Linked DNA regions of Homo sapiens: regions 1 and 3 are each reported to be linked to region 2. Evidence: microRNA targets listed by miRTarBase, many of them from high-throughput screens and not tested one by one. Region 2 holds a microRNA gene; each other region holds the end of a gene's coding sequence.

Region 1 (10,130 bases), not on the chromosome of region 2:
CTCACATGCTCACATTCTCCCTCTCTTTTTCATTTTTCCTTTTTTTGGCTTATTTACATGATGGCACATTTTCAATTTGACCTACTTGATTGCCTTTTAGATGGAATACTTCACTGTCTTGTAGACAGTGACAATATAGATGAGAAAGTAAAGAAATAATCTGGCATATTTTAAAGGTGATAAAGATGGAATTGAGAGGTAGTGCTTAAAAGTATTCATTATTAAGATACACTGAATTGGTACAGATATTCTCATTTTGCTTTTAGGGTTGGATACTGATGATATTAATATGATGTTAAAACCTCACATTAAGAGGTTTTGTTTAGAGTCAGAAGTTAGTTCTTTGATTCAATCTCCAAATGGCACGAAGAAGTTTCTAAGATTAAGCACTTTAGGTTGCTTTTGTGGCCTCCCACTTCCATCTGGAAACACCTCGGAGGAAGAATGGCATGTAGTGTTCACAACTCAAAATTAGGCAAATTGGAGTGCACTAGAAGTTTTCCATTCTAACTCTAAGCCCTTTAGAGCAATGTATTGTCTATTGTCTTAGCTTTAGCTGTTAGCACTTGTTCTGTTTCACGCCAAACTCTAGTCATACTGAAATTCTTTCACTTCTTAAATCATATCAAGCTCTTGCCTACACATTACTTTTTCTCACTGTCTAGACTCCTTTCCTACACATTCTTCTTCCCTTTGTGTGGCTAACTCCTACTCATGCTTCAGACTCTAAACGTTCTCATGGAAATCTAGGCTAGTTAGATTAGATAACCCCTGCTTGCCTGCTTCCAAATGTTAACCAAAGACCATGAGATCTGTAGAGGGAAAGGAGTAGAGCTTTATTTTTTATAATTTTTTTAAATCTATAGATTGGGGAGGCATGCTTTTTAGTACAAGTGGAAGTGTGCTTTCTGGATAACAAGGAGAAGGTTCAAGATTTTATGAAATGGGAAAATGTTACATATTGCTCTTTGAGAAATTTCATTAGCACTAGTAAGATTTTAAGGTTCTAGCAAACTCTGATAGGTAAGTGACAGCAGTGGGCAAAACTAGTCAGAGAGTTTGAGCAGCTTTCAGCAGTTAGATCAAACTGGTTTCAGGTTATAGCAGGCAGCTTTAGCTGCCCAGCTTGCAGAGAATTACATCTTTTGAGCAATGTTTTGTGCTGGGTGCTTTCCCCCCACCCCACCCCCTCCCTGGCCTCCCAACTCTGTTTTAGTTGAGTGACAAAAATGATCCAATTCATATGATCAACTTTCATGCAAATAACTTTGGTACATCTCCTAGCAATATTTTATTAAACTTACTTATTTCTATCTGTTTTATTTACTTATCAATGAGATACACAAGATGAGAAACTGAAAAATGGGAGTGGGACAAGGGATCTTGAATGTGAAGAGGAGAATATGGAAACGAAGATTAGGCAGAACCCTGAAGAAAAAGAAGCCCCGCAACATAGCAAGAGAAGAAATATAGGCAGGAAAAAATCCTCTTCTAAAGGGAAACAACGAAGTTGTTTCTAAACAGCGAATACCAGGTAGAATTTTCAGTTGGTTCCTACTGGTGTGTCACTTTTAAATCTTGCATTGATTCTATTATGCTGAATACCTATGTGTTAATATGCACTGGGAGTTATAAAAGAGACCAGAGAGATAATAGCAACTATAGGTACCCAGAGCAATTGTTAAGAAGCTAAATGACATAGGAAAAGCAGGTTGCAATGTGAACTAACTAGTGAGAAAATAAGAGAAGACTTTCTTCCTCACTCTAAATGTCCTATAGCATATTTTCTAAATACGAAAGAAAGAGGGAACCCTTTGTGACTTCAGATCATCTGGAATATGCAAACCTGATTAATGAAAGTATCTCAGCCTATGTCTTCCTTGCAGTCTTTAGATGTCTTACTAATACCAGTGTTTTCACATAGATTGATTGGCTTTGAATCAATTCAATAAGCCACCTCGTCTAACTCTTCCCGTCAAGGCTAACAGCTATAATTTTCTCTAAAGGCTACTGGGAATGAGACCCCAATGCTTTAATAAGAGTGTGTCTCAACTTGTTCTTCTTCAAAGATGTCTCAGATATTCTTGAACCTTTCACTTCAAGACAAATTTTAAAATCGTCTTGACAAATTACATACATAGATTTTGGAAATTATATTAGAACTTCATTGGATCTGTAAATTAATTGGGAAATAAGTGACATCTGTTTTACAAGATTTATTTCCAATTCATGCAACATGTTATATTTACCTTATTTTTAGGTTTCCTTTGATGACTTTTTTTGTAACTTTTATTTTAGGTTCCAGGGGATGTGGGCAGGTTTGTTACATAGGTGAACTCCTGTCATGGGGGTTTGTTAGACAGATTATTTCATCACCCAGGTATTAAGCCTAGTACCTAATAATTACCTTTTCTGCTCCTCTCCCTCCTCCCACCCTCCACCCTCTGTCTACTCTGTTGATAGTTTCTCTTGCTGCACAGAAGCTCTTAAGTTTAATTAGATATCGTTTGTCAACATTTGCTTTCGTTGAGATTGCTTTTGTTATCTTTGTCATGAAATCTTTGCCCACTCCTACGTCCAAGATGGTATTGCCTAAGTTGTCTTCTAGGGTTTTTATAGGATGATCTCCAATCTTGGGGATTTAATAAAGTATAATAATATTCTTCACACATTTCTTACACAGCTTTGTTAGATTTATTTCTTGTTGATTTAAATGATGATGCTAGTTTATATAGTATGCTTTAAGCTGCCTTTTCTAATTGTTCCTGGTATACAGAGAAGCAATTTGTTTTTATAAATTGTTTTCATACCCAGCAAAATTGTTTAAAGTTAATCAATTATCTTTATATAATCTTTTGAGTTCTACCTTTTATTTTTTTCTTTCCCAATTGTTACTTTTTAATATCTTTGTTCCTATCTTCCTGCATTGCCCAGGACTTTCAATAAAAAATTGAATGGAAGTGGTGATAATGGAAACCTGTTTTGCTTCAATTGTATATATTACTATTTTTAAATTAACTCTTAAGTCTTGAGTATGCTGTGATTTTTGTTTGTTTTATTGTAACTTTTATAGGTTTAAAGTAGTTTCCTCTCATTCCTAGAGGATTTTTTTTCTTTAAAATGATTGGATGTTAAGTCATATCCCAGGTTATTTCTGAATCCATTGAGATGATCAAGTTTTTTCTCCTTTACTACCTTAATATCATTTGTCAATGCTTGTGAGTTTCATTAATTGATCTTCAGTTATTTAAGTTGTATTCAGTTATTAAGTTGTATTGTTTGTTATGATGTATTAAAATCTTTAAATGTTTTTGTCTTAATACTGTGTTCTTTAAAAATTTTTGTAATGTGTTTTTATGAATGAGTTCTGATAAAATTGTGTGGCTTACTTATTTTTTTCTTAGTAGAAATATTTTAAAATATTGATTAATATGTCCTTGATTGTTATTGAATTCTATAGATTTTTTTTAAATTCTTGAGTTAGATTTGGAAATACAATATTGTAGAAATATGTCCATTAATCTCTTTTCAAATTTAGTGCTGTTAATCATAGTTTGTTTTATTTTCAATTCAATTTTATCAATTTTATTACTCTTTCAAAACAACCAACTTGTGTAAATCCTCTGTTGATGTATTAATGCTTTGCTCAGTTCTTTATTACTTTTCTATTTTTATTATTTTACTATCTTTATTCTTTTTTCTAATATAATCACTACAGTTGTAAGTATAAAATACTTACTAGTAATATTAAATTAATTTCATTAAACAGTTTATGTTTTCTATTGCTGCTAAAGAAAGTTACCATAAACTTTGTGGCATAAAACACCACCAATTTATTATTATAAATCTTAGGATTCTGAAGGTCAGAAGTTCTCAATCCAAAGTGTAGATGTGTTATGTTCTTTCTGGAGCCTCTAGGAGAGAATCCATTTCCTTGCCTTTCCAGCTTCTAAAGGCACCTGTATTCCTTGACTCCTGGGCTTTTCCCTGTAACACTTCTTTCCTTTCCATGATCACATCTCTTTCTCTGTATCTGACCATCCTGCCTTCCTCTTATGAAGACCCTTATGATTATATCAATTACATCAGGCCCATACAAATACTCCTGGATAATTTCCAATCTTGAAATCTTTAACATAATCACACCTGCAAAGTCTCTGGCTGTGTAAGGTAACATATTCAAAGATTTCACGGGTTAGAGCATGAACATCTCTTGGAATGCCATTACTCTATCAACTGCACACATGTTTTGATATACAGTATTTATATAATTGTATTCTAAAAATTTTTGAATTTTCATTCTGATTTTCTTTGCACAGATAATTTATTTAGAAGTGTTTATTGTTTTCCAAACATATGGGCTTTTTAGTACTTATATTTTTGTGGTTGAATTCTAAATGAATTGAAAAATATTTGGATGATGTGGTCTATATAACATGAATTCTTTGAAATTTGTTGAGACTTGTTTTATGCCTCAGAATGTGATAAATTTCATAAATATTCTATGGGCAGGGTCTGCTTCATGGGTGTGGGACCTGTATACTTGTACAGGGCTCATGTTCAGAAGGGTTCCATGCATGTGTTATTGATTTGCTATCACAACTGTTACTATTACATTTTTAATAATTTTTGAACACAAGTTCCTACATTTTTATTTTGCATTACACTCTTCAAATTATGAAGCCGGTCCTGTCAATGGGGACTTACACAACAATGTATATCCTAAAGTTGTTATCCACCATGTCTCATACATATCTCTTAGGTCAGGCTTGATAATGTGCTGTTAAAATTTGCTAAGCCCATGTTGCTTTCTGTCTTCTTGGACAATCAATTACTAAGAGTTTATTGTAAGTCTCCTATTGCAATGGTTTGTTTATGTGTTGCCTGTTCCTTCTAGTTATAAGAATGTATACATTATATATTTTTGATATTCTTTTATTAAGTGCACAAAAGTTTACAATTGACAAATATTCTGACAAATTGAACATATGCCAGCAAAAATACCTCTCAAGAACAAACTTGGAATTAAGCTTCCTTTGGACAACCAATGAGAAAATTTGTCTTCACCAGACCATCACTAAACTAAATTCTAAGGATGTCTTTGTGGCAGAAAGAAACTGGTATAAAAGGCCTGAGACATAACATGAGAAAGAATGGAAAACAAATGAATTGATAAATATTCAGGTAAATCTACATACCTACGTACAAGCAGACTTGTGGAGCTCTTAAAAAGAAGTGAACTTAGAGCTATCTATGACAAACCCACAGCCAATATCATACTGAATGGGCAAAAACTGGAAGCATTCCCTTTGAAAACTGGCACAAGACAGGGACGCCCTCTCTCACCATATCTATTCAACATAGTGTTGGAAGTTCTGGCCAGGGCAATTAGGCAGGAGAAGGAAATAAAGGGTATTCAATTAGGAAAAGAGGAAACCAAATTGCCCCTGTTTGCAGATGACATTATTGTATATCTAGAAAACCCCATTGTCTCAGCCCAAAATCTCCTTAAGCTGATAAGCAAATTCAGCAAAGTCTCAGGATACAAAATCAATGTACAAAAATCACAAGCATTCTTATACACCAATAACAAACAAACAGAGAGCCAAATCATGAGTGAACTCCCATTCACAATTGCTTCAAAGAGAATAAAATACCTAGGAATCCAACTTACAAGGGACATGAAGGACCTCTTCAAGGAGAACTACAAACCACTGCTCAATGAAATAAAAGAGGATACAAACAAATGGAAGAACATTCCATGCTCATGGGTAGGAAGAATCAATATCATGAAAATGGCCATACTGCCCAAGGTAATTTATAGATTCAATGCCATCCCCATCAAGCTACCAATGACTTTCTTCACAGAATTGGAAAAAACTACTTGAAAGTTCATATGGAACCAAAAAAGAGCCCGCATCACCAAGTCAATCCTAAGCCAAAAGAACCAAGCTGGAGGCATCACGCTACCTGACTTCAAACTATACTACAAGGCTACAGTAACCAAAACAGCATGGTACTGGTACCAAAACAGAGATATAGATCAATGGAACAGAACAGAGCCCTCAGAAATAATGCCGCATATCTACAGCTATCTGATCTTTGACAAACCTGAGAAAAACAAGCAATGGGGAAAGGATTCCCTATTTAATAAATGGTGCTGGGAAAACTGGCTAGCCATATGTAGAAAGCTGAAACTGGATCCCTTCCTTACACCTTATACAAAAATTAATTCAAGATGAATTAAAGACTTAAACGTTAGACCTAAAACCATAAAAACCCTAGAAGAAAACCGAGGCATTACCATTCAGGACATAGGCATGGGCAAGGACTTCATGTCTAAAACACCAAAAGCAATGGCAACAGAAGCCAAAATTGACAAATGGGATCTCATTAAACTAAAGACCTTCTGCACAGCAAAAGAAACTACCATCAGAGTGAACAGGCAACTACAGAATGGGAGAAAATTTTCGCAACCTACTCATCTGACAAAGGGCTAATATCCAGAATCTACACTGAACTCAAACAAATTTACAAGAAAAAAACAAAAACCCCATCAAAAAGTGGATGAAGGACATGAACAGACACTTCTCAAAAGAAGACATTTATGCAACCAAAAAACACATGAAACAATGCTCACCATCACTGGCCATCAGAGAAATGCAAATCAAAACCACAATGAGATACCATCTCACACCAGTTAGAATGGCAATCATTAAAAAGTCAGGAAACAACAGGTGCTGGAGAGGATGTGGAGAAATAGGAACACTTTTACACTGTTGGTGGGACTGTAAACTAGTTCAACCAGTGTGGAAGTCAGTGTGGCGATTCCTCAGGGATCTAGAACTGGAAATACCATTTGACCCAGCCATCCGATTACTGGGTATATACCCAAAGGACAATAAGTCATGCTGCTATAAAGACACATGCACACGAATGTTTATTGCAGCACTATTCACAATAGCAAAGACTTGGAACCAACCCAAATGTCCAACAATGATAGACTGGATTAAGAAAATGTGGCACATATACACCATGGAATACTTTGCAGCCATAAAAAGTGATGAGTTCATGTCCTTTGTAGGGACATGGATGAAATTGGAAATCATCATTCTCAGTAAACTATCGCAAGGACAAAAAACCAAACACCGCATGTTCTCACTCATAGGTGGGAATTGAACAAGGAGAACACATGGACACAGGAAGGGGAACATCACACTCTGGGGACTGTTGTGGGCTGGGGGGAGGGGGGAGGGATAGCATTAGGAGATATACCTAATGCTAAATGACAAGTTAATGGGTGCAGCACACCAGCATGGCACATGTATACATATGTAACTAACCTGCACATTGTGCACATGTACCCTAAAACTTAAAATATAATAATAATAAAATAAAAGAAAAAAAAAAAGAAGTGAACTTAAAATACCCAGCAACAATAGCCTATGAGCTAGAAGGTGGTTAAACGTAAAAGTTCCAAAATCCTTGTTTTTTGAGTAGGAATATAAAGGTAAATGTTGATACATTGGATTTGTTGAAACATCGATTGTTATTTTTCATCATTTCCGAAAGATTTTTGCCATTGTCACTTCAAATGTTGTCTCTGACCCTTTCCTCTCTCTTCTGCTTGTGACAATCCAATTAGACATCTATTAGAGCTTACACCTGTATCCTCTACGCCTTTCGACTTCTTTCTCCAAATTTCTACCTCTTTATCTCTCTTATAAGAATTCCAGAAGTTCTTTGGTTCTATTTTCTAGTTTTCTAATTTTATTTTCAACTGTGTCTAATTTGTTATAAAATTTATCCACTGAAATTTGTTAATTAAATAATTATGTTTTTACTTCTCAGAGTATTGTTTGATTTGTTTGCAAATATGCTTAGGCTTTAACCATATTTTAAACTTCTTTGCCTCACATTTATCAGTTTTACTCCTCAGTTACTGATAAGCAACTTATAATATGTACTCTCTTTCCTCTTTAAATGTCCAGCTATGCTAAAGCGCACAGACATACAAACCGGTTAATCGAAATCTGAAGACAGACTTATTAGCAAGATAGTATACAGTGGGGAGTTGAAAACATTTCCAACATTCTGTGGAGGACACTACTGTTTGTAACCTATTTCTGGAAAGGAGTTCTGTTTTCTAAAAATAAAAGTTTGTAATTTTCCATAAACAAAATGCTAAGGGGAAGCATTTATGTTTTCTAAATCAAAGTATAATTTTAAATATAAACAAAGAGAATCCCAATAAGCTAAAACTAAAAAAAAGACAAACACTTGATTACTTTGACAACAAATTATATTTTAAATGTTTCATATTTACTTTTATATTTCCATACAATCAGAAACAGTAAAAAAAATTTGGAGAGCACATAAAAACATCTTAAAGTTAAAAATATAAAGCCTTGTATTTAAAAATGCAGTCATTTAAATAATATTATAAGAATCTATTTGTACATAATAAACAAGTTTCAACCAGCAAGAAATTACTAATATTGACTGTGGAGTTTTGGCTGTTTTAATAGTTCTAACTCATTATTCCGTAATTCAACACAGCACTACCAACACAGCTGGCAATGACAAGACTGGGAGTATCAAACTAGGATTGTTAGTTCAATTAAAATTTCAGATAAACAATAATGTACTTATACTAAAAAATTATTTGTTGTTTATCTGAAATGAAAATTTAACTGGGTACCCAATTGTTTGTTTGTTTAATCTAAAAACCCTGATTGAAATTTATCTAATAAAACATCATTTAATATCTAAAATAAAATAAATTTACTATAACATCTTTATAACTATTCAATCAATGATTCATCTTCTATTTTTCCAAATTCTTGCACAAATATTTGATGCTTAAATAAATACATAAATAATAAATAGGTTAATAAGTTACACTTGAAAATAATTTATGTTATGATGAAAAAACTTAAAGTGCTTCCACATGTCCTCACAACATCACTGTGAGGTAAGATGGTGGCTAATACTTTTTCCACTTAGAAATAAAGGAGAAACCAAGGCACAGTGGAACAAGGACTTGTGGATCCTGGCTAGCAGACTAGGGTTGCCAGATTTAACAGAAAAAAATCCAGGATTTCCAGCTAAATTTGACTTTATGGCAAAATTTATTGTCCCATCATTTTTATGTGATGCTTCAAATATCACATTCTAGCAAACCCATTCAATTCCTGAAATTAAAGTTCGGATATTCTCTTGGCCCTTGGCCTCAATTTTGCTATTTGTATATTCTCCCGTGCAATATCTAGGAAAATCCTTATATTTAAAAATTATTTGTTGTTTTTTGTAGATTCAAATAAATAATACTTTACATATAAGTATGTTCTGGATATTTCATGGTACAATGAAAAACTATTCATTGTTTACTGAAATTCAAATTTAACCAGGAATCTTGTATTGCATCTGGCAACCCTACAACAGACCCACACAATACATGAAGTGTTGAAGTAGATTTGCTTGAAGTTTCACTGGCATCTTCACTGATTCTTGGATACCACAGAGAATGAATTTTTTTATGAATTCTCAGCCCTAAAATAAAATTAAAAATATAAAGATGAGCTATGTTTAATAAGAAGGAAAGTAGGGTTCTTGAAAAGTCAATATAGTCTTTGACATTCATGTGTTAGAAATGCTCTATATTCTCAACTATAAATAGGGAGATCAAAGAAATTATCATCTAAAATAGGACACTACTGGGAGTGACAAAGAACTTTACTAAGAGTATAGGACACAAGCTTAAACCCAGAATTTCCTGGGCAAACTATGTATGGTCTTTCTGGTCATGAGTACAACAAACTCACTATTGATGCTATTCCTTTTTTTTTTAACCAAAAAGGCAGATACCTAATGACGATTTTTAGCAACAGAAAGAAATTTATAGGCTGACTTTGGATTATATGTCTCAGGATAAATGAAAAATTTAAATTAAAAAATATATAACTTACCTCTTCAAAAACTTCTCCACAACCCTCTGCACCCAGTTTTCCTTGGGGTCCAGACAGAGCTCTCTTCCATCAGAAAGCTTTACACTGAAATAAGAAAGAAATGGTTCAGATTAATATTTAGTTTTTGCATTCAAATCATGATTCCTTAAGTCAGGCATAAAG
Region 2 (10,402 bases):
TTGTCATGCGGTCAAAACCCTCAAGAAATACTCACTCTTTACATATTATGTATCTCTTTTCTTGCAGGATTCAATCTTCAAATCTTCCCAAGCCATCCTATCCACCCACTTTCTCATCTAATTGTGAGATACTTTCTCAAGAGCAAAACATAGCTTTGAACAGAAAGTGTTAAAGTTGGCTGGTGTCTAGGAAGCATTTATATAGCATATAGTTCACTTCTATTAAAGAGATGACAGTCATCTGATTTTTAAAAGTACGTGTCTGATGTTTCTATGTCAGAATCAAGGTCTTGTTATTTTTTCAAATTTCAATTCTCCTCCCCTGCTTTATTAGCAAAATAGCTAGAAAGGAAGTTGTAGGCTGGCATCATTGTTTGCATTTTAAAAAGGAAGAAAAATTGTCATCCTGAGCAAACTTATTCCTTTCAAAAGTGAAAGTAGTATACCTTAGCCAGCGCACACGATACAACTTGGTACTGGCAAAGTCTCTCTTTTGTTTCATCTAGTGTGTCAAAAGTGAATTTGCCATCAATTTCTCACTCTCAAATAGTTGATTTCTGTTATATGCCTGTTTTAAGTGAATATTAAGTGGGTTTAAGATTTTTTTAATTACAGAAAAGTAAGCTCACTATTCAAATAGTCTAAGAGTGTCTTTTGTTTTCATCCGATCTATCTTCTATTATACCATTTTCCATCTTTTCTCTTTGCTTGATCTACACACACTTGCATTTATCATTTTCATAAAATATTGTTTAGTGTGGGCAGGGTGTGGTGAGATGAAGATTATAAATATCCATCAATCTTCAGTGTTCCATTTGCTCGAAAGAAACATGAAAGCCATGGCATTGCTTTGCCATTCTCCTCGCTCCCTACTGCCTTCTGGCCAGTTTTTCCTTGTAAAAAGGAATGAGTTCTACCTAAGCTAACTGGTTTTGATGCCAAAAGCCTCTGCGTCATATCCTTGAGCGCTGCTCCCACTCTGTGGTCTGATATCCTTGTGGCAATGTCCCAGGTGGATAAAACGTGGCACGACAATTGGCACCAATGAATTACTCTTGGAGTAGCAATTGCTGGATGTGCCTCTTTTGTTGAGGTGATTGGATCTTTTGGCAAAAACCAGTGACTGCAAAGGATGAGAGAAACGATCAGAAAAACTGAAAAGCTGTAGGAGACCAAACACTAGTGTCTCCCCTGCTTCAGGGGACACCCACTGTCAGAGTGAACGACAAAGGTTAGATTTGAACAAGCTTTCTTTCTTTCTTTCTCTTTCTTTCTTTCTTTCTTTCTTTCTTTCTTTCTTTCTTTCTTTCTTTCTTTCTGTTTCTCTTTCTTTTCTTTCCTTTCTTCCTACTTTTTCTTTCTCCTTCTTTCTTTCTCTTTCCTTCCTTCCTTCCTTTCCTTATTCTTTCCTTTTTTTCCTTCTCTTTATTTTTTCTTTATTCTCTATCTTGCTCTTTCTTTCCTTTCTCTGTCTCTGGCTCTTTTTCTTTTTCTCTCTTTTTTCTTTTCTCTCTCTGTGCCGCTCTCTTTTCTCTTTTTTTCTCCTTCCTTCCATCCTTCCTTCCTTCCTTCCTTCCTCCTGTCCTTCCCAGATAAAAAATATTATCTGGTCAAACTGTCCCATCTGTTTGGGACAAAGGAGATCCACTGAGATTTTGTACAAGACGTACATTTTTAAAAAGGAAGGGGGGTAGAGGGCAGGAAATCTTTCCGTTGGTGTCGTTCTGCTGATGTCACCATGGATTCAGTGTTCAAGTCCACAGCCAGGCAAAACTCAAATAAATTTTCCTTTTTGCAAGCAGCTGCACTGTGAGTTCGCCTTCCATTAGTAAAGGGACAATGAAGGGAAGGCGAACCCCGCGTCCAAAACATGGCCAATGAAAGGACACTGGAATGGAAGCCAGGAATCCTGCTGTGGTGGAGAGGCATAGACTCATGAGTCCACCACAATCGGATACTTGCTTCTTTTTAACAGCCCTATCAGCCGAGAGAAATAATGACTCCTGAATCATTTGACAGTAAAAAAGTTAAAATGATGTCTCAATGGCGCTGCATCATGCCAGGTAATCACTGCCCAATTCATTGATTATTCCTTAAACTATTCTTAACCATAGATAGCCTATCTCTTCATCATGCTTAGCAAGTGAGTGGTTTGGTATAAAACATTTGTACAAAAGTATGGGAGTATTCCGAGACTTCACATTCCTATTTGATCATTTTTCTGGTAAAATTGTTCTCAAGGTCCAAGCGTAGCCAGGGGAATTCCAGGAAAGATTTGTGAAATTACTTATTTGCAGAACCTATTTATTATGCGTAGTTCTGGAAATGAAGTAAACATAATGGTTCCCGATGTTTTTCTAGAAATAGTTTTATTTCAGTTTTTGTTTTTCTTTTTACTCTTGTTCTAGTGTTACTTTCAACTTTACAAAAGAGTTGGGTGGCAAAAAAAAAAAAAAAAAAAAACAACTGAAAAACAAGTAAAAATTCTTAACCCATTTTAAAATATTGTAAATGTCTTATTTTCCAGACGCGCGTGGATGATTTGAAGATATTAGCCTAACAAGATGGAAGCAGGTTTAAAATTTTACATAAGAAGTTACCTTTTTCAGGTAATGGTGTTTTTCTGTAATTTTCCCAAACCTTTCGCTTCCTCAAGTATTGCAAATTTTTAGGGCATGCTTGAATGATTTAATTATGAAGAATAACTACATTTTAAACTTAATTTTTTAAAAAAGAAACCAGTTTTATAATTTTCCTAGCCAAGGAGTAGAGCAGGCATGACATTCAACTCTATGGAGTTTGGAAAATTTTTAGAAATTTATTACTGAACAGCACTTGGTTTTTTGGATTTGAAAATTAAGCCATAGAGCTACAACTAAATTCTGTTTTGCCAAACTTCACAGCACCAGCAGGCTCTGAGCAATCATAAGCATTTGAAACTAGCAGGCACTGCCCCTTAACTCTGTCGCTATCTTGGGCATTTGAATGAAAAAATATAAGTATTACAGGATTGGCTCTAAAAAGCCTACCATGTGTTCTGAATTCCTGGAAGATAGAGCTTATATAAATTACATAATAACAATATTGATTTTTTTTTTTACTTTAGTCATAGATTGGCAATACTATATGGCACTTTATGAAACTATTCCCATGCATATATTCAGTGAGTAGGATTTGATCTTAGCTTTCATGATACAGGCAGTTTCCTTTTAGTGTCATTGAAGGGCTTTATGCCACCTAAAAATGTTTAATAACATAAATTATATATTTGCTTTATAAGTTACATTACTCGGCCTTTGTCACTGCTTATCAGCATTAACCCATATTTTCCAACTTGTTAATATTACTAAGAGAGCCCACGGATTCTTGCTTAATGAAGCAAGCCAAAATTTCTTCTGAAAAAAACCCCTCATTTTCCTCCTCAACACAAAGAAGATTCTTAAAGGACGTATTCAATTAATACTTTAAGAAAAATATCTACTCCCAAACAAACCATCCCTTTACTAGGTCAGTATTTGATTTTCTTCTCGTTTTTTTCCTGCAGCCTGGGTATCTTCTGGTTGCTCTTTTATTTTCTAAAATGGAAACTTTGGATTGTTTGGAGGTTAACACTACAAACCATTTGAAATGAAAAACTTCTCTCTGTTCTATATTTGCCAAGGAAAGGGAGAGCTGCCCCCAGCTGAAACGCAGCATTGAGCTCCTTTCTGTGGAGGTCAAGAGCGCCATGCAAATTTATGAAAGTGGTGCTATTTGAATGTCTCAGTGTACCACTTTGATAGATCTTAGTCTATCGCTAACAAATATTGTATCGTTCTAGTAAGCGTGATGATAACAATTCATTCTCATTACTCTGGGACGTTGGGCTTATTCTGCTCCATTATAATAGGAGCACCTACATCCCCCACATTCCAGCAATATTTAACAGGGTTCAAAGTGGCCATCCTCAAATACCTCTAGCCCCATGCCTTTGTCAGAGAGACGGAAGGAAAAGAAGCAGCTCAGAGCTTATTTAAAAGTCTTTTATTTTAGAAAGGAAATGAACATTTTAAAATAAAATAAATAAAGACCATCTGGGGGTGACTGATTTGGATACTACTTACTTCCACTTGCTATTGTTATTTCTTTGGATCTGAAAATTAAGCCACAGAGCTACAACTAGATTCTCAGTTTTGCCAACCTTCACAGCACCAGCAGGCTCTGAGCAATTGTACCACAGCTCACTTGTGATGAGATGGGGAAACAACAAAGTATCTATGAATGGTTATGTCTCAGTTTCTGTTCATCGTACTGTTGGTTTCCTGTTCTCTTTATTTAACTTTTTAGGTTGCATACACGAGGGCCTGCTCTTTTCTCTGAATAATTCCTCAATTCAGCTCTGTCTTTTTTTGTTCCCCTTGGTAGGGCTTCAGTTCATCTCCCAGATTCTTTTTTTTTTTTTTTTTTTTTTTTTTTGAGACAAAATCTCACTCTGTTGCCTAGGCTGGAGTGCAGTGGCACAATCTCGGCTCATTGCAACCTCTGCCTCCCAGGCTCAAGCAACTCTCATGCCTCAGCCTCCAGAGTAGCTGGGATTACAGGCGCACGCCACCATGCCCAGCTAATTTTTTTGTATTTTTAGTAGAGACAGGGTTTCACCCTGTTGGCCAGGCTGGTCTTGAACTCCTGACCTCAAGTGATCTGCCAGCCTTGGGCTCCCAAAGTGCTGGGATTACACACATGAGCCACCAGTGCCTGGCCCCAGATTCTTGAGAAAGGAGTGAATGTCCATTTTTTGAGGCAAATGAGATAATTATTTTGAGAGCCAGGATCCATAATTATAGCTAACAAAAGTTAAAAAGGTCTCTTTTTAGGTCCTGTAAAGGGATGGAGTCATGTGTGTTTCCCAGCATCTAGGACAGGGAGTTATTTAGCTGTATAATATATGTCCCTGAAGTGCTTATGATTATGCCTGTCTTCAATACAATTCACAAAAGGCGTCGTTAATGAAAGTCCATTGTCTTGGATGTTCCCTTCTTATATGTAGAACATTGGCTTTGCAGAAAAAAAATGTTATGTTGACAAATGCAATCATTTTATAAGAAGGTCTCTGAAACAGATTCATCCCTGTTTTTTCAAACAGTATTGCGGGGGGCGGGGGGTGCGGGGGGAAGGAGGAACAACTATGTAATTTCTTCTATGGTTCAAATTTTACAGAGTACACCCAAACTTGCTCATTGTTGGTGTTTGAATCAATAATAAGTGTGGGGATGGGATGGGGGTGGGAACAAAAATGCAAACTTTTCCCGAAGATGGATCTTAATATACCTGAAAATCTACTCTAGAGTGGTTTTCAAAAAAAAAAAAAATATACCTATAAATCCGTTGGTAGTACTTGCTAAGTTTATTCTAGTTGTTTTCCAGAATGCAAATAGGAAAATGAAAATTTCACCATCATTTTTAATGTAATGACAGGTATTTAAAGGAATGGACTTGCATTTGGGCTCTCATGTGTTCTTTCTCTCTGCCTACAATTTAAAGAATTTTCTTTATTCTGCTGGTTTGCCATTTTGGTATCACTTTGCCCAGATTATGTGTTCAGCAGTGAATAAATGAGTCTTCCATATATAAACAGTAAAATGATGAGGTTTACCTAAAGTCCACTGGATTTGTGGAAAAAGTGGAAACCAAGGGAAGCACGTTGGGGAGAACATAGAAGATATTGCTTAACTTTTGCTTTTGTGAGAGTGGGACGAAGTCCTTTCCATTTATGGCATAAAACAATTGAATGGTAGACTCTTTTATTGGATTAATGGTTGTAATATTTTATTTTCAGACATGTCACAGCCCCAAAAGAGAGAAGATATTGAGGCCTGTTGCCACAAACCCGTAGATCCGAACTTGTGGTATTAGTCCGCACAAGCTTGTATCTATAGGTATGTGTCTGTTAGGCAATCTCACGGACCTGGGGCTTTGCTTATATGCCATTCAATATCCCTTCGAGTTATTTCATTCTCCTTCTCTTCCCCTTAGTTTCCTTTAAGAGTGATAAAAATGGAAAAGGGGGCTGAGGTGGAGGAAGGAGACCTTTTGTCCTGAAATGAATGAGGTTCTTCAATGATGAATTAATAGGCTGGCCCTCAATTCCCATATCTCTTGTAACTGGTCTCTGCTGTCAAATTAGAAGGCTGAGCTTACAGGTGAGGCAGCAAGAATTTGAGTGATTGGAACAACTTACTGTTGAGTGATGAGTAAAGAGATAAACAAGGGTTTGTTTTGTTTTCTGTAAGCCTAATTGTTTTCAAAGTTATTATGATATTTTCTGGAAAGTGGCAGATGTGTTTACAGGACCAATTTCACCGTGATTTGGGTTTTTGGGTTTTCCTTTGTTGCAATTCTTCCTCCCCCAATTTCCCCAATAATTTTGCTTCTGAAGATAAGGACTGATAAATCAGAATGGATGTGTTTAACTGCCTAACTATTTATACTTCTATTTATATCCAGCAGTGTAAGAAGGACTTCTTATAAAAAAGAGATCGCCTGTTTAGGTCCAAATTCATATTTGGCCAGAGCTGTTTTATAAGTCTTTATCCTGTTTAAAACGCTGGAATGAAAATAATTTTATCCTCTTGCCTCTTAAATGTCACCATTGTGCCAGGATTGAAAAGCTAAACTGACCACAGATCAAAGCAAAACTGGCTATATTTGTTTCATTCCAACAATGTGAGCTGAGGAGTCTGTAAACAGAACTAGAACCCAGGGTGAAAAGTTGATCAGATTTGGATGACTCTAAAACTTTTGCATGCCCTTTTGGTAAAACATAGTGCCAGAAGTTCCCTTAAGATGTGTGTGTGTGTGTGTGTGTGTGTGTGTGTGTGTGTGTGTGTCCTCTTCTAACAAAAAAAGTCAACATGAAGTAGTTGGTGGGTTAACATTAGAGAAAAGTTTGAAATTCAAGTGGATAAATTCTGTCTCCTCTTAAGACCTACTCAGGAATAACTAAAACTCTTTCTTTTATCCAGTATATAGAAATGAGATTTTGCATTTCCGAATTAGGACAGCCTAGATACAGATGACATATGTATAAAGGGTAGAATTTGGAATTCTGTAATTGCTAGACCAAGACGACATTGTTTCCATGCATTTCCTTTGCATAGCACTGAGGAGGGTTGTCTATGGTGCTCAACCCCCTGCTTGCCAAGAAAGCATTGCTTTATTATAGAATGATGGCATATTACAACCCAAAGTGAAAGACTGTCCTCATTGGTGTGTGTTGTATAAATTGTTTGCCTAAGGCCTTTATCTACACAAAAAGCAAACAATTTGCTTGGTTAGTTTTATATGCCTCTTTGAAGTGGTTAACTTGGAATGAATAAACTGCTAGCAAGTTAAATCAGTACCTCCACTAGATAAATACTTGTTTGATAACGGCAAAATCACATCTCTACTCATCATCCTTTAACCTGCTGTTAAGTGTACTACCATGGGATTAGCGGTGGAGTTCATGGATCCATGGGGACCATGAGCTCCCAGTATTCCCCGTACAGGAACAATACTGGGACTGCAAAATGGCCAGTGGGTGACTGCCAGATTACTTCTTTTAAGGAGGTTTTTAAAAACACATTATCCCAAGAAAAAAAGATTATATAGAGCAGTTGGCCCTTTCAAAGTTTCTAAACGGCTTCAAACTTTGATTCATCTGGTTAGAAAATATTCTAATGGGAAGCCCAAAGCCCCTGGACATTGGCCACAAGAAACAGGATATTAAATATTTTACATGATGAAATTCAGTATTTTTCCCTCCTTCCATGTTCATGAATGAATGGTTCTGTAGATATTAATTATTCCTTTGAGGCTCCCTCAGAGTGTACCAAATATCCTACAGGAATCATGCAGAAAGTAAAATAATTTCAGAATTTCCCCAGAAAGGCTTGGAAGAAATATTTCAACAGCTATTATTGCATGGAGGAAATGGAATGGGTATAAAGCAAACTAGTTTTATTAAATTTCTCAAATCATCACTATCAAAATATATTTAAGATGTAATACCAGGACATGGTTTAGATTTGTTTTTTTAAAACAGGAAAAGAAACTTATTCCGAGAAATGCATTTGATAAAGCAACTCACCCTGAGCAACTCACCCTGCAACATCAGAGTTTGAGGAGGGAGAAGCTGAGATTTAGCTTGAGAAGTTTTCTTATTTATATTTCAAAATTAATAGATGTATTTCTTTACATGGGAAAAATGGTATGTGTATGATAGAATTAATTTTGAATTTTAAACTAATATGATTTCTTAGTTTTCCAATGTGCTTACGAATCATTCCTCAATATTTGTTAGGTCCTGTGGATCCTTATCTGTTGACTATGGTATTTAATCCCATCAAATGCCACCTAGGCTCTCTAATTAAGATTTTTAAAGCCTCTACTGCCTGTAATAGCACTGAATTTGTACAGAGAAGTCGATGTGAATGACTCTTCAAAGATATTCAAAGATTTATTAGAACCTAACATGGTAGTTAATAAAGTATGAATTGGAAAAAAAGTCACTTTTTACATTGGGCATAGCCGTAAGGCTAGAAAAATTATGATTTCTTCATTCTCTCATTCATTCAACAAACCTTTATGAATGTTTACTTTGTGTTCAGCACTTTGCTAAAGGACAAAGATATGACTCTGGCTTCAAAAAACTAATTATCTGATCAGGGGCCCCTTTGAAGAATTGCGTGTCAGCCATACTGACACATGTTTTAATGAATCCCATGTTTTAATCAAAACATTTGTCCAACTTCCAAATGCCTAATCAAATATAGAATATGTTTACTAATGGGGTGTCTCTGCTGTTTCCTAATCTCAGACACTCATAGCATTGTTTGAGGTTTATCCTTACTTCGTTTGGAGGATTGCTGCTGGCAGCACTTAAAACCTCGGTGTTTGATAGCATGAGAGTCTGTTTACACGTGTTCAGAGAATGTATGGAAGATTTTTTTTAAGTTAATAAGTACAATAGATTGTCTCTACCTGAAGATATACTACTGTTGTTCACCTATAAATACTACTTCTTGTTTTATTTTTCACTCGTACTTTTCGATAAGAATTTTTATGACATCATTCCATATCATAATTGCATGTTGTTATTACATGCCTACAAATATTTACACTAATTATGTAATGAGCCATAATTGCACTAATACATGATAATGGGCTAAAATCAGTGTAAATAAACAAGGAAATTCACAACCAAAAGAGCAGGGTATTGAAAACCATTAGTATTCTAAGAGCAGCATCTTTATATCTTTGACCCCCAGAATAAGAACGTACATGGAAAAAGATCAATTTTTCCATTTCTGGGTATTTAAAAGCCCTCTGAACTGTATGTTGTGGCTGATTGACTAGCACTCTAGCACATGGATCTTATCCTCTCTTTGTTGTGTCTTCCTTTGTCAACACTTACTGCCCTTCCCCTGCCTTGTGTCCCATTCATAAGGGTTATATATCGTGATTGTGCTTACAGAGTCAGGCACAGTGTCACTGCAAGGTGAATGAAAAAATTCAAATTAAGAGGAAAGAAAATGAATTATATATTCTTTTTTGGTCACAGTAAGTGTTAAATCTTCTACATAAGTGAGCATCTAGTAGCAGAAGACTTGGAAATACATCTTGAGTTTCCATAGGAGATCTGGGATTTAAGGTTAAACCGGCCAGGTTGAATTCAGCCACTCTGATTTTTTGCCCTCTCTGGAATCTTAATAGCAAATCCATCTTACTATGAGTGAAATTCTAACATAAGTGGAAGAACAAAGGATTGGACATAAAAATAAAAATGATCATCCCTTAACTGTAAGTTCATTTATACTCCCATTTATCCATTTATGCATATATTCTTCTTTTCATTTGACAAAGTTTTTTTTTTTTTTTAAATTTCTATATGTGCCATCTACTCGCCATTGCAGATAATACCAGATTGGCAAAGGTGAATTATGGGGTCCCATTTTCACATAGCTTGGGGTCCAGCGAATGAGACAAACAGATAAACTATAATGCAATGATGTGAGAATTAAAGCATAAATGCATATATGAAATTGTGAGATAATCAGAGGAAGAACTCTTTCAAATGAGGCTTGAAGGATGAATGAGAGTTTTTTTTTTTTTTTGATAAAACTAACCTCCCAGTCTTTCTCCCAAACTAGGTAGCCTTGATCTAACAGAGGCAGCCCCCCCGCTCCGCCCCCCAAAAAAAGCAGTTTCACCTCATCAAAGCATAAGGAAATAGGGTTGGAAACATTGGAAAAAAAATCACTTTTCTCCAGGCTAGTGGAATAACATGAAGAAACATCAATGCTATGGCATTTGAATCTGTCTTTTGAACACGATCAGTGCAGTAGAAGTATCAGGAAGATTCTCAGTGTGCTCAGATGTGCCT
Region 3 (10,402 bases), not on the chromosome of region 2:
AAACAAACAAAGACTGTCTTCTTTGCTATGGCTCAATCCCAGCCCTACTGCTGTCTTCCATGGGCAAGTTACTTACTTTCTCTTACCTCAGTTTCCTCATCTGTAACATGAGGATGAGAACAGTACCAGCTTCACAGGATTCTCTGAGGTCTAAATGAATAAATATACCTAAAGCTCTCAGAACTGAACATTGCACATTCTAGGCATAAGGGAATTATTGTTCATTATTATTTACAAAGCGCTCCCATATCTGTTACGTTTCTTGGTTGTCCCAACAATCTTGTGCCCTTGCGATGGCTATTTTGCCCAGTCAGCAGGCAAGGAAACTGGGGCTCAGAGAGGAGCAGCCGTGTGGGCAGTGGGGCCAAGGCCCAACTGTGACCTTGGGTCTTCTGTGTTTGCCCTCAGGAACCAGTGACGACCTGTTCCAGGACTCGGAAGGACGAGAGGGTTCAGAGGCTGTGGAGGAGCACCAGTTTTCGGACCTGGAGGACTCGGACTCAGACTCAGACCTGGACGAAGACGAGGATGAGGATGAGGAGGAGAGCCAGGATGAGCTGTCCAGACCATCCTCAGAGGCGCCCCCGCCTGGCCCACCACATGCACTGCGGGCAGACTCCTCACCCATCCTGGGCCCTCAGCCCCCAGATGCCCCCGCCTCTGGCACGGAGGCTACACGAGGCAGCTCGGTCTCGGAAGCTGAGCGCCTGACAGCCAGCAGCTGCTCCATGTCCAGCCAGAGCATGCCGGGCCTCCCCTGGCTGGGACCGGCCCCTCTGGGCTCTGTGGAGAAAGACACAGGCTCAGCCTTGAGCTACAAGCCTGTGTCCCCAAGAAGACCGTGGTCCCCAAGCAAAGAAGCAGGCAGCCGTCCACCACTAGCCCGCAAACACTCGCTAACCAAAAACGACTCATCTCCCCAGCGATGCTCCCCGGCCCGAGAACCACAGGCCTCAGCCCCAAGCCCACCTGGCCTGCACGTGGACCCAGGAAGGGGCATGGGCGCTCTCCCTTGTGGGTCTCCAAGACTTCAGCTGTCTCCTCTCACCCTCTGCCCCCTGGGAAGAGAACTGGCCCCTCGAGCACATGTGCTCTCCAAACTCGAGGGTACCACCGACCCAGGCCTCCCCAGATACTCGCCCACCAGGAGATGGTCTCCAGGTCAGGCCGAGTCACCACCACGGTCAGCGCCGCCAGGGAAGTGGGCCTTGGCTGGGCCGGGCAGCCCCTCAGCGGGGGAGCATGGCCCAGGCTTGGGGCTGGACCCACGGGTTCTCTTCCCGCCCGCGCCTCTACCTCACAAGCTCCTCAGCAGAAGCCCAGAGACCTGCGCCTCCCCGTGGGTGAGTTCCTGCCCCTGGTGGCTGGGCCGCTTCTCCCCTGTGGGTGCAGGGGTTGCAAGTTCACACCCTCCTGGGTATCACACCTGGAACTAAACAGCTCTGCCAGCTCAGTAGTTATTAATAATTTCGCAAACATTTATTAGGCACCTACTGTGCCATGCACCATGCTGGCTGCCCTAAATCAGCTGGCTTATTAAACTTTATTTTAGCCTCAGAAGCACAGAGCATGGACTCTGGAGTTCATGGGAAATGGGTTCTACCACGTATTAGTCCGTTCTTGTATTGCTATAAACAAATTCCTGAGACTGGGTAATTTATAATGAAAAGAGGTTGAATAGGCTCACAGTTCTTCAGGCTGTACAGGAAGCGTGGTGCCAGCATCTGCTCGGCTTCTGGGGAGGCCTCAAGCAGCTTTTACTCATGGCAGAAGGCAAAGCGGGAACAGGCATCTCACATGGCAGAGTGGAAGCAAGAGAGAGAGTTGGGGGAAAGGTGCCACACGCTCAAAATGCCAGATCTCATGAGAAATCACTATCTGGAGGACAGTATCAGGCCCTGAGGGATCCGTCCCCATGACCCAAACACCTCCCACCAGGCCCACCTCTAACACTGGGGTTTACAATTCAACACGAGATTTGGGCGGGGACAAATATCCAAACGATATCATATCACTTGCAAGGGGTGTGGCCTTGGATGAGGTTGTAAATACTCGTGCAATTCCCCATCCCCCACCCCATCCCCATCTGCCTGTGTTCTTTGAGCAGATGGCACAACTTAACCAAAACCATCACCATCTCCAATATCACTGTCACCAGTGCTCTCAGAGACACCACAACCAATATCATCCTTGTCAACCATCAGCACTATCCCCATGGCCAGCACCACCACTGTCACCATTGCACCAACACACCACTGCTGCCACCCCATGAGCACAGTCACCATCCCTGTCCCCTCAGCTGCCATGACCCCTCCACCGATAGCACCATCATTGTCAGCTGACCCCCTTCCGACACCTTCTCTGTCCCCGTGTTGCCATGACCCAGCCCTGTCACTCCTGGAGGAACACTGATCTAGGAATCTTTCCTTGATTTTTAATTTTGGGTTCACATTCAAATTCCTGGAGGTAGCAGAAGGGCAAAGAGCCTCAGGTGGGAACTCATGTCCAAGAGTGAAGCTGGGTGAAGACCATTTTAGGAACAGGACAGGCAGCAGACCCACATAGAGGCCAGGCTCATGGGTGACAACAGGGCCCCACGTCGCTCAAGTATCCCCTCCTTTGAAGACAGATATGCTGGCTAGAGGCATGGAGACCATGGGGCCTGAGCATACTCATGGTCACTGTCGAGCTGGAGATGGCCCATTCCAGAGATGGCAGCTGGCTCAGCATCTGTGGGCAGGGAGTCAGGAACTTGGTTCTGGGCTCAGCTCAGCCGGGACCCTGGACTCGCTCTGTGATCTTGGGCGAGTCCCCCTCCCACTTCCAGGCCTCGGCTCCCCATGTGCCCAGCATGTAACCTTCACCTTACCTTGTCTTGTTTTCTGACCCCAGCAGAAGGCCGAGTCCCGAAGTCCCTCCTGCTCACCCGGCCCTGCTCATCCTCTCTCCTCCCGACCCTTCTCCGCCCTCCATGACTTCCACGGCCACATCCTGGCCCGGACAGAGGAGAACATCTTCAGCCACCTGCCTCTGCACTCCCAGCACTTGACCCGTGCCCCATGTCCCTTGATTCCCATCGGTGGGATCCAGATGGTGCAGGCCCGGCCAGGAGCCCACCCCACCCTGCTGCCAGGGCCCACCGCAGCCTGGGTCAGTGGCTTCTCCGGGGGTGGCAGCGACCTGACAGGGGCCCGGGAGGCCCAGGAGCGAGGCCGCTGGAGTCCCACTGAGAGCTCGTCAGCCTCCGTGTCGCCTGTGGCTAAGGTCTCCAAATTCACACTCTCCTCAGAGCTGGAGGGCGGGGACTACCCCAAGGAGAGGGAGAGGACCGGCGGAGGCCCGGGCAGGCCTCCTGACTGGACACCCCATGGGACCGGGGCACCTGCAGAGCCCACACCCACGCACAGCCCCTGCACCCCACCCGACACCTTGCCCCGGCCGCCCCAGGGACGCCGGGCAGCGCAGTCCTGGAGCCCCCGCTTGGAGTCCCCGCGTGCACCGACCAACCCCGAGCCTTCTGCCACCCCGCCGCTGGACCGCAGCAGCTCTGTGGGCTGCCTGGCAGAGGCCTCTGCCCGCTTCCCAGCCCGGACGAGGAACCTCTCCGGGGAACCCAGGACCAGGCAGGACTCCCCCAAGCCCTCAGGAAGTGGGGAGCCCAGGGCACATCCACATCAGCCTGAGGACAGGGTTCCCCCCAACGCTTAGCCTCTCTCCAACTGCTTCAGCATCTGGCTTCCAGTGTCCAGCAACAGACGTTTCCAGCCACTTTCCTCGAATCATCCCACTTCCTCAGCCCCATCTGTCCCTCCGTCCAGGAGCTCTCACGGCCCCATCTGTTGTACCTTCCCATGTATGCAGTTACCTGTGCCTTTTTCTACACCTTTTGTTGCTTAAAAAGAAACAAAACAAATCACATACATACATTTAAAAAAAAAACAACAACCCACGAGGAGTCTGAGGCTGTGAATAGTTTATGGTTTTGGGGAAAGGCTGATGGTGAAGCCTCCTGACCCTCCCCGCTGTGGTTGGCAGCCACCCACCCCAGAGGCTGGCAGAGGGAAAGGGGTACACTGAGGGAGAAAGGAAAAGGAAACTTCAAACAATATAGAATTAAATGTAAAAGGAAGCACTCCTGTGTACAGATGCGATCAAGGTTCCTGTTTATTGCCACTTCACCCCCCTGCCCAGCTCGTAGCCACCCCTCTCTGCCAGCAGAAAGGCCAGTGTCCCCAGGCAGAGGGGCACAAACACAGGCAGGTGACCCCCACCCAGGCCCCAGCAGGCAGGCCCAGAAAAACTAATCTTTTCCTTTTTTTTTTTTTTTTTTTTTTTTGCAAGAAAATAAAATGATACTTTTCCTAGGATTTCAACACAAAATAATAGGTGCAGGTAGAAGGAGGAGGGCTGGCTCCCCAAGGGCTCCTGGATACTCTGGTAGTCTGAGTCATGGGCCCATCCTGGCACTCCACAGGTGGGCAGGCCACCCCACCCACGCACCCCCACTCCAGACACCTCCCTTCTGCACCCCACCCTGGCCCCCTGGGCTGGGGAAGGAGCCCTGACTGTCCGTCCCTGGCTCCCAAGCCCCTGACCGAGGCCTCACTCTCCTGTTGCCTCCTCTGTTCTAAAACCACCAAACCACCCACAAAGGCAGAAGTGGCAGGGCCCGAGCCCTAGCGGCCGTTCCTGAGACTGGGTTTTGGGTTTTGTTTCATCTTGGTCCCTGGGGTACAAGGGAGCCTGTTCCCCTCATGGCTGGGTTTTTCCAGTTCTCCACAGCAGAGGTTTGCGGGGAACTGTTTCAGGACCACTTTGCCACAGGACCGTTTCCCCCCGTCCCTGCCCCTGTCTCCACTACCCCAAGGAAATACCCACAACTGTGGCTGGTGGATACGGCCTGGACCTGTTTGCTGTCTTACACCTCTTTTTTAAAAAGAGAGAGGATGGTGTTTGATACTTCACCCAGCCACCACAGATTCTTTTGACCTAGAGGATTTTTGAATTGTCCTAACTCGTTGGAATTCTCCAAAGCAATCAGTGTGAGCCAGTGCCTCTTCCTTACCCACATCTCTACTTTCAAGAAGCTGCCCTGCATTTCCTGGGGCAAAACTCTACTTTGTAAGAAAAATAATAGGACCAGAAATTTAAATCCCAAATTGAACTATGGAACTTGAACTCTAGCGTGTTCGCCCCAACTGGGAGAGGTGAGCTTTTTCCCAGTGTTTCAGAACTGATTTTCTTTACTTTCTACAAGGGAGGGCAGCACAGGGACTACGGTTGAGGCCCGTGAAGGCTGGGTTTGATGCCACCCTATACAGAGCAGGGACCTCTCTGGCTAATCCCCAGTCCTCAGCCAGGCTGTGTGAATCAAGTGCCTGCCCCAGGGCTCTTGAGCTATTGAAGCTGCTTGGGTACAGGACACAGTAGGTGGGGAGGGTTAAGACCCTTCTGTGAGTTCCCTGTGCGGGGCTGTACTTGCCTCTTCCAATTCGTGGCCTTTCCCTGCTTGGTCCCTACTAGACAGACAAACCAGCCACAGTCCAGCCTGCAGCCAGACCACCTTGTTCACTCATTCTCCTTTGCCTCAGAGCTAAGACAAAAATGAGACAGAAGGCAGGGCTCCCTGGGAGTCCACTGTGCTCCAGGGTTCTGGGGAATCAGGGTTAGCCAGCAGCTCCTGGCTGCTTCCCTCAGAGACTAGGGCTCTCATCCTCCCCAAGAGAAGCAGCAAGCCCAGCCTGGACCACACTGTCCATATTGCTGGACAGTGGCCTGACAGAAAGTGACTCCTCCAAGTCCCAGGAGGCCAGGGCTTTTCTCATCCTTGCCTTTCAGCCCTAACCCATGGGACTGCCCACGGATTGGAGACTTCAAGGGCTGAGGTCTGGGAGCTGCATAAAGGGCATTGCTTCAGCCCAGGTTAGAAATCTGCCTGGGCAAGCTCTTCCTGCCCCAGACCTACAAAGCAGCAGACCGGGGGCTCTGGTGGACTAGCCCCTGACATTGGTGGGGGGCCCCACACCACTCCACCCCACCCTGCCTTCCAGCTCTCCTGGGCATTTTTCTCCCTGTACTCAAACAGCCTACCCACCCAAGGTTTCCTCCCTGGGCAGCCTAGCAATGAACAGTGCAGCCGGCAGGGCAGAGGCCCGGCAGTCACCGGGCCCGTCAGGCTCAGGCAGAGAAGCCACAGGGGCCAGGAGTCACTGGAGACTATTTCTAAATGATGGGGGTAAATGCACAAATAGAATCTCACCAAAGGGCTGCCTCCACATTGATGCCGTGCCCAGAGGGACAGAACCAATGCCACCAGCCTGGGTATATGTCACTGGGCACAGCTCTAACCCCCTCCTCCGGACTCTAGTCCCGCTCCTCTGCGCACAGAGCCCCCAGCCCACAGGTACACCTTCATGATTTGGAGAAAGACGCTCGCCCCATGCACGCCCTCCTCTGGGCCTTCTGCCCTGCTCCCAGTCACTTCCAAGCTTCCTGTTTGCCTGTGATGTTATTGTGCCTGTTGAGGGAAGCAGCAGAGGAGGCAGTGGCTGACTTGGCACAGATGCCTGCTACGTGCTCTGTTGAAATGCGCGGGGTGGCCATTCCTCGGTACAGACTAGTCCTGGTCCTTGGGTGTGGGCAGTGGGGGAGGAACCAACTGGTCGAGGTTTCAGAGCCAAACCTTGCCTTTGGTTGGTGAGTCCTTGCCCCCCAGGCCTGCGCTCCACGATGCCTTTCACCCTTGGCAATCTCAGGGCCATCCTGGGTAGTAACCCCACTCCTCTCTGCTCCCGCCCGCACCTGTGGCTCTCACTCTGGGCTCAACCCCTGCAACCCTCCAGGAGCCCGACAGCAGCCAGCTGCCTGCACTGTCGCCTCCGTAAGCTCCAACTTCCAGACCCAGAAGTCCCTCTGCTTCCCTCTGTTGGAAAAAGCCTAAAAGAATTAGCTTCCAGATTCCTCTAGCCCCTGCTCCATTCCCACCCAGTCCTTCTGAAGAGGAATGAGCAATACATCTGAGCTGGATTTCTCTCTAGTCCTTTCTCCAGACAAATCCTTCTTAAAGCAAAAGTCCTGGCTGAGCACCTGTCCTTGGGGACCGATCTGCCGTGTGACCAGGGGAAGAAAGTTCCCGAAAGCCTGTTCCACCAATTCTGCTTCTGTGTTGTGAATCCAGTCTGCTTTCCATTAGAAAACCGCTTCGGCACTTATGGTCACTTTAATAAATCTAGTATGTAAAAAAAGAAAGAAAGAAAAGAAACAGAAAAAAGAAACGTGCAGGCAAATGTAAAATACAATGCTCTCTGTAAGATAAATATTTGCCTTTTTTTCTAAAAGGTGTACGTATTCTGTATGTGAAATTGTCTGTAGAAAGTTTCTATGTTCTTAAATGGCAATACATTCCAAAAATTGTACTGTAGATATGTACAGCAACCGCACTGGGATGGGGTAGTTTTGCCTGTAATTTTATTTAAACTCCAGTTTCCACACTTGCATCTTGCAATGTTGGTATGGTATATATCAGTGCAAAAGAAAAAACAAAACAGAAACAAACAAAAAAAAAAAACAAAAATCCACGCAGGTCTAAAGCACAGAGTCTGACGTACAAAAGGAAAAATGCTCAGTATTGATGTGTGTGACCTTTGTTGTAAATTACATCTGTACTGTGAATGAGAAGTTTTTACAAGTATAATAATTGCCTTTATTACAGCTCTGGCTGAGTGTTCAGCCTGAGGATATTTTTTAAAAAAAAAAGAATTAGCATGTTGGAATAAATTTGAAAATCCCAACATAGCCCTGCTTGCCTGGCTCATGGTTTTTCTAGAGGGTTCCACAATGTCAGAGTTGGAAGGATACTTGGCATCCCAAGTGCTCATTTTGCTTCAGAGCAGTCAGGCCAAGAGAGCGGAGGTGACTAGGCTGCGGTCACACAGCCCAGGACACTCTTGCAGACCCTGGAAAGGCCTCGCGAGGAAGCACCAGATATAGCACCATGTGGTTTGGGGCCTGTATTTGTTCCCTAGTCTGCTGTGACAAATCACCACGAACTAGGTGGCTTTAAACAACAGAAATTTATTCTCTCACAGTTCTGGAAGCCTGAACTCCAAAGTCAAGGTGTTGGCAAAGTTGATTCCTCCCGGAGGCTCTGAAGGAGAATCAATTCTATGCCCCTCCTAGCTTCTGGTGGCTGCAGGCAATGCTTGGCCTTCCCTGGTTTATACACTCATCACTCCAGACCCTGCCTCCACAAGGCCACTTTCACAGATTCCAGGCTTTAGGACATAAACTTAACTTTCGGGGGGACCCCCATTCACCTCACTTCAAGATGAGTAGTGAATTGGTTCTTGAGTGTTGGCAGTGGGGGAGGCACAGCGCTTACTGCCTGTGAGACCTTGGGCAACTCACCTAACCTCTCTGTGCCTCTGTTTCCTAATCTGTAAAGTGGAGGGTCATGATCCACATCTATAAGGGCTGGCGTGGGGATTAAATGAGATGGCATATACAGGGTGGCTAACACAGCCTGGAACATAGTAAGCCTTCAACAATTTGTTTCCGAGCAGGCTTTGCACAGGGTTCTGGGGTTACACGGGCGGAAAAGATAGGGAGTCCTCACCTTCTGTATTCAGCAATGATTTGCCGAGTGCCAACGAGAGGCAGTCATTGATACAACAGCGAGCAAGACAGACACAGATCCACCACGAGGAGCTCACATTGTAGCAGGGGAGGCCATCATCAGTTACTCAATCACAGCGGCCATCACTGCTGTGGTGGAAGAGAATGACAGTGCTAATCCAGAGTGAGTCTGCATCACCCAGGGGACTTTTCCTTGGAAAAGTCCTAAGGGTCGGGAGGACGAAGGGAGCCATGAGAAGGAGATATTAATGGACGATCAAGGGGGATTCTCAGGGTAAACGCCGTCCAGAAGTTTAGTGCTAAGAGCCTAAGAGGGTCTGTTCGTTCAAAGCAATCAGAGGATGAATTGTTGCCGGCTTTTGGGAAAGCTGGACTAGTACAGTTCCTGGCGCACAGTGGGCCCTTCATAGATGCTGCTGAGTGTTGAGTGAATAAATGGTGGCTGTGGATGGTGGTGGTTGAGGAGTGAGGGCAAGGTGGGGAAGTGGAGGTAGCAGACACAGACACCTTCTAGGGGCCTAGGCTAGAGACAGGGGAGAGCTGGGGCAGTTGTTGGGGGGCGCGTGGAGTGCAGGGAAAGGAAGCTGAGTGTGTGATTGGCTGGTGAGGAGATGAGAATTCAGCCTGGCTTGATGAAGAGCAGATGTAGACTCCTCTCCCACAGTGGCCTAAAAGGAGGGGAGGGAGGAAGTGCAGATGAAGTCAGTGTGTCTATTTGGTGACGGGAAGTTGAGGACACTCTTAAGAATGGATTGTATGTGGGAAATAGAGTGAAGTCACCTGAGGAAGCTGCTGGGTGAGAAGATCAAAGACACCTGAGTAGGAGTGAATGACCTTTGAGGGGAGCCAGAGGAAGCCGCCAGGGAAACAGGGAAGGCACCTGCATAGCATCACGGGCCGGCTGCCCTCTGTCTGCTCAGCGGTGTGGTTTTTCCAGCAGTCCTCAGCCGCTGGCTGTAGGCATGGGGAAGGTGGCCCAGGGTTAGCCAGGCCATGGGACACAAGGACAATGAGTTACTGGAGGTGAGTCACTGGCGAGTGAAGAGGTTGAAGCCACCAGCCACTGAGCCCACACGCTGAGAAGGGAACAAAGAGGCCTGGTTGATAAGGAGAAAGGCCAGTGGTCAAGTGACCACTTGGATGAAAACAGGAAAATGTTGTGAGTTGTCTTAACTCGTTGGATGAAGACCGTGTCAGCCACAGGTGTGGCTGAGGTGCGATGAAAGAGATCAGGAAGTGAGAGTCCAGGGTGCTGAGTGGGCTGTGCAGGTGGCAGATGAGGCCATCACTGAGGATTGCAGGGCTTAAGTGGAGATCCGGGCTGTGAGCCAAGGCCTAACAGTCAGGATGGGTTCTGTTACGCAGCAGAAACCAGCAACCCAGACACTCAGTGGCTGAATGCAAAGGGAAGTGTATTTCTTTCCCTCACTATATGTTCACTGTGGGTCAGCAGGGGAATTATGCTTATCCTAGTCAGAAACCTAAACTGATAGAGGCTCCTTCCCTGTGCTTCCATGACCCCAGGGGCTGAGGCAAATACAGTACTCGTGGCCTCCTACTGGCAAGTAAATGCTTTTACGTGGAAACTACAACTATCCCTTCCATGCATATTTTGCTGGCTAAAGCAAGTCACGTGGTCATGCCTAATGAAGGAGAATGAGAATAATTGGAAACAGCCGTAATGATAATCATACAAGGCTAGGACTTCTCAGAATTGGAAGAGGAGATGAGCAGATGTCAGCGATGGGAGGGAGGAGGGCCTGACAGT

The links. The annotated mature microRNA hsa-miR-100-3p reads CAAGCUUGUAUCUAUAGGUAUG and lies in region 2 at 5,899-5,920, shown strand. An mRNA with a match to its seed (bases 2 to 7 or 8) in the 3' UTR can be bound and repressed. Matches are read on the target gene's strand: a 7mer-m8 pairs with bases 2 to 8, a 7mer-A1 pairs with bases 2 to 7 and ends in A, and an 8mer does both.
Region 1: the mRNA of CXCL8 is a reported target of hsa-miR-100-3p. The part of its 3' UTR that is shown has no 7-base or 8-base seed match.
Region 3: miRTarBase lists HIVEP3 as a target of hsa-miR-100-3p. Seed matches in the 3' UTR shown: 7mer-m8 at 6,485-6,491.

Annotation. Positions count from the first base shown.
Region 1 is chr4:73,741,871-73,752,000 of GRCh38, reverse strand. CXCL8 (C-X-C motif chemokine ligand 8) reads right to left here. Exons shown (of 4, transcript NM_000584.4): 3 at 9,969-10,052; 4 at 8,285-9,552. The coding sequence ends at 9,537. Among named protein-coding and RNA genes, the nearest start is that of CXCL8, 6.4 kb to the right of the region's middle.
Region 2 is chr11:122,147,758-122,158,159 of GRCh38, reverse strand. It overlaps MIR100 (microRNA 100), which reads left to right and starts at 5,852; the gene lies at 5,852-5,931. MIR100HG (mir-100-let-7a-2-mir-125b-1 cluster host gene) reads left to right here. Exons shown (of 5, transcript NR_137179.1): 4 at 2,528-2,609. It overlaps MIR10526 (microRNA 10526), which reads left to right and starts at 6,004; the gene lies at 6,004-6,057.
Region 3 is chr1:41,503,757-41,514,158 of GRCh38, reverse strand. It overlaps HIVEP3 (HIVEP zinc finger 3), which reads left to right. Exons shown (of 9, transcript NM_024503.5): 8 at 409-1,343; 9 at 2,893-7,794. The coding sequence ends at 3,708. Among named protein-coding and RNA genes, the nearest start is that of EDN2, 24 kb to the right of the region's middle. RefSeq lists an enhancer at 631-1,131.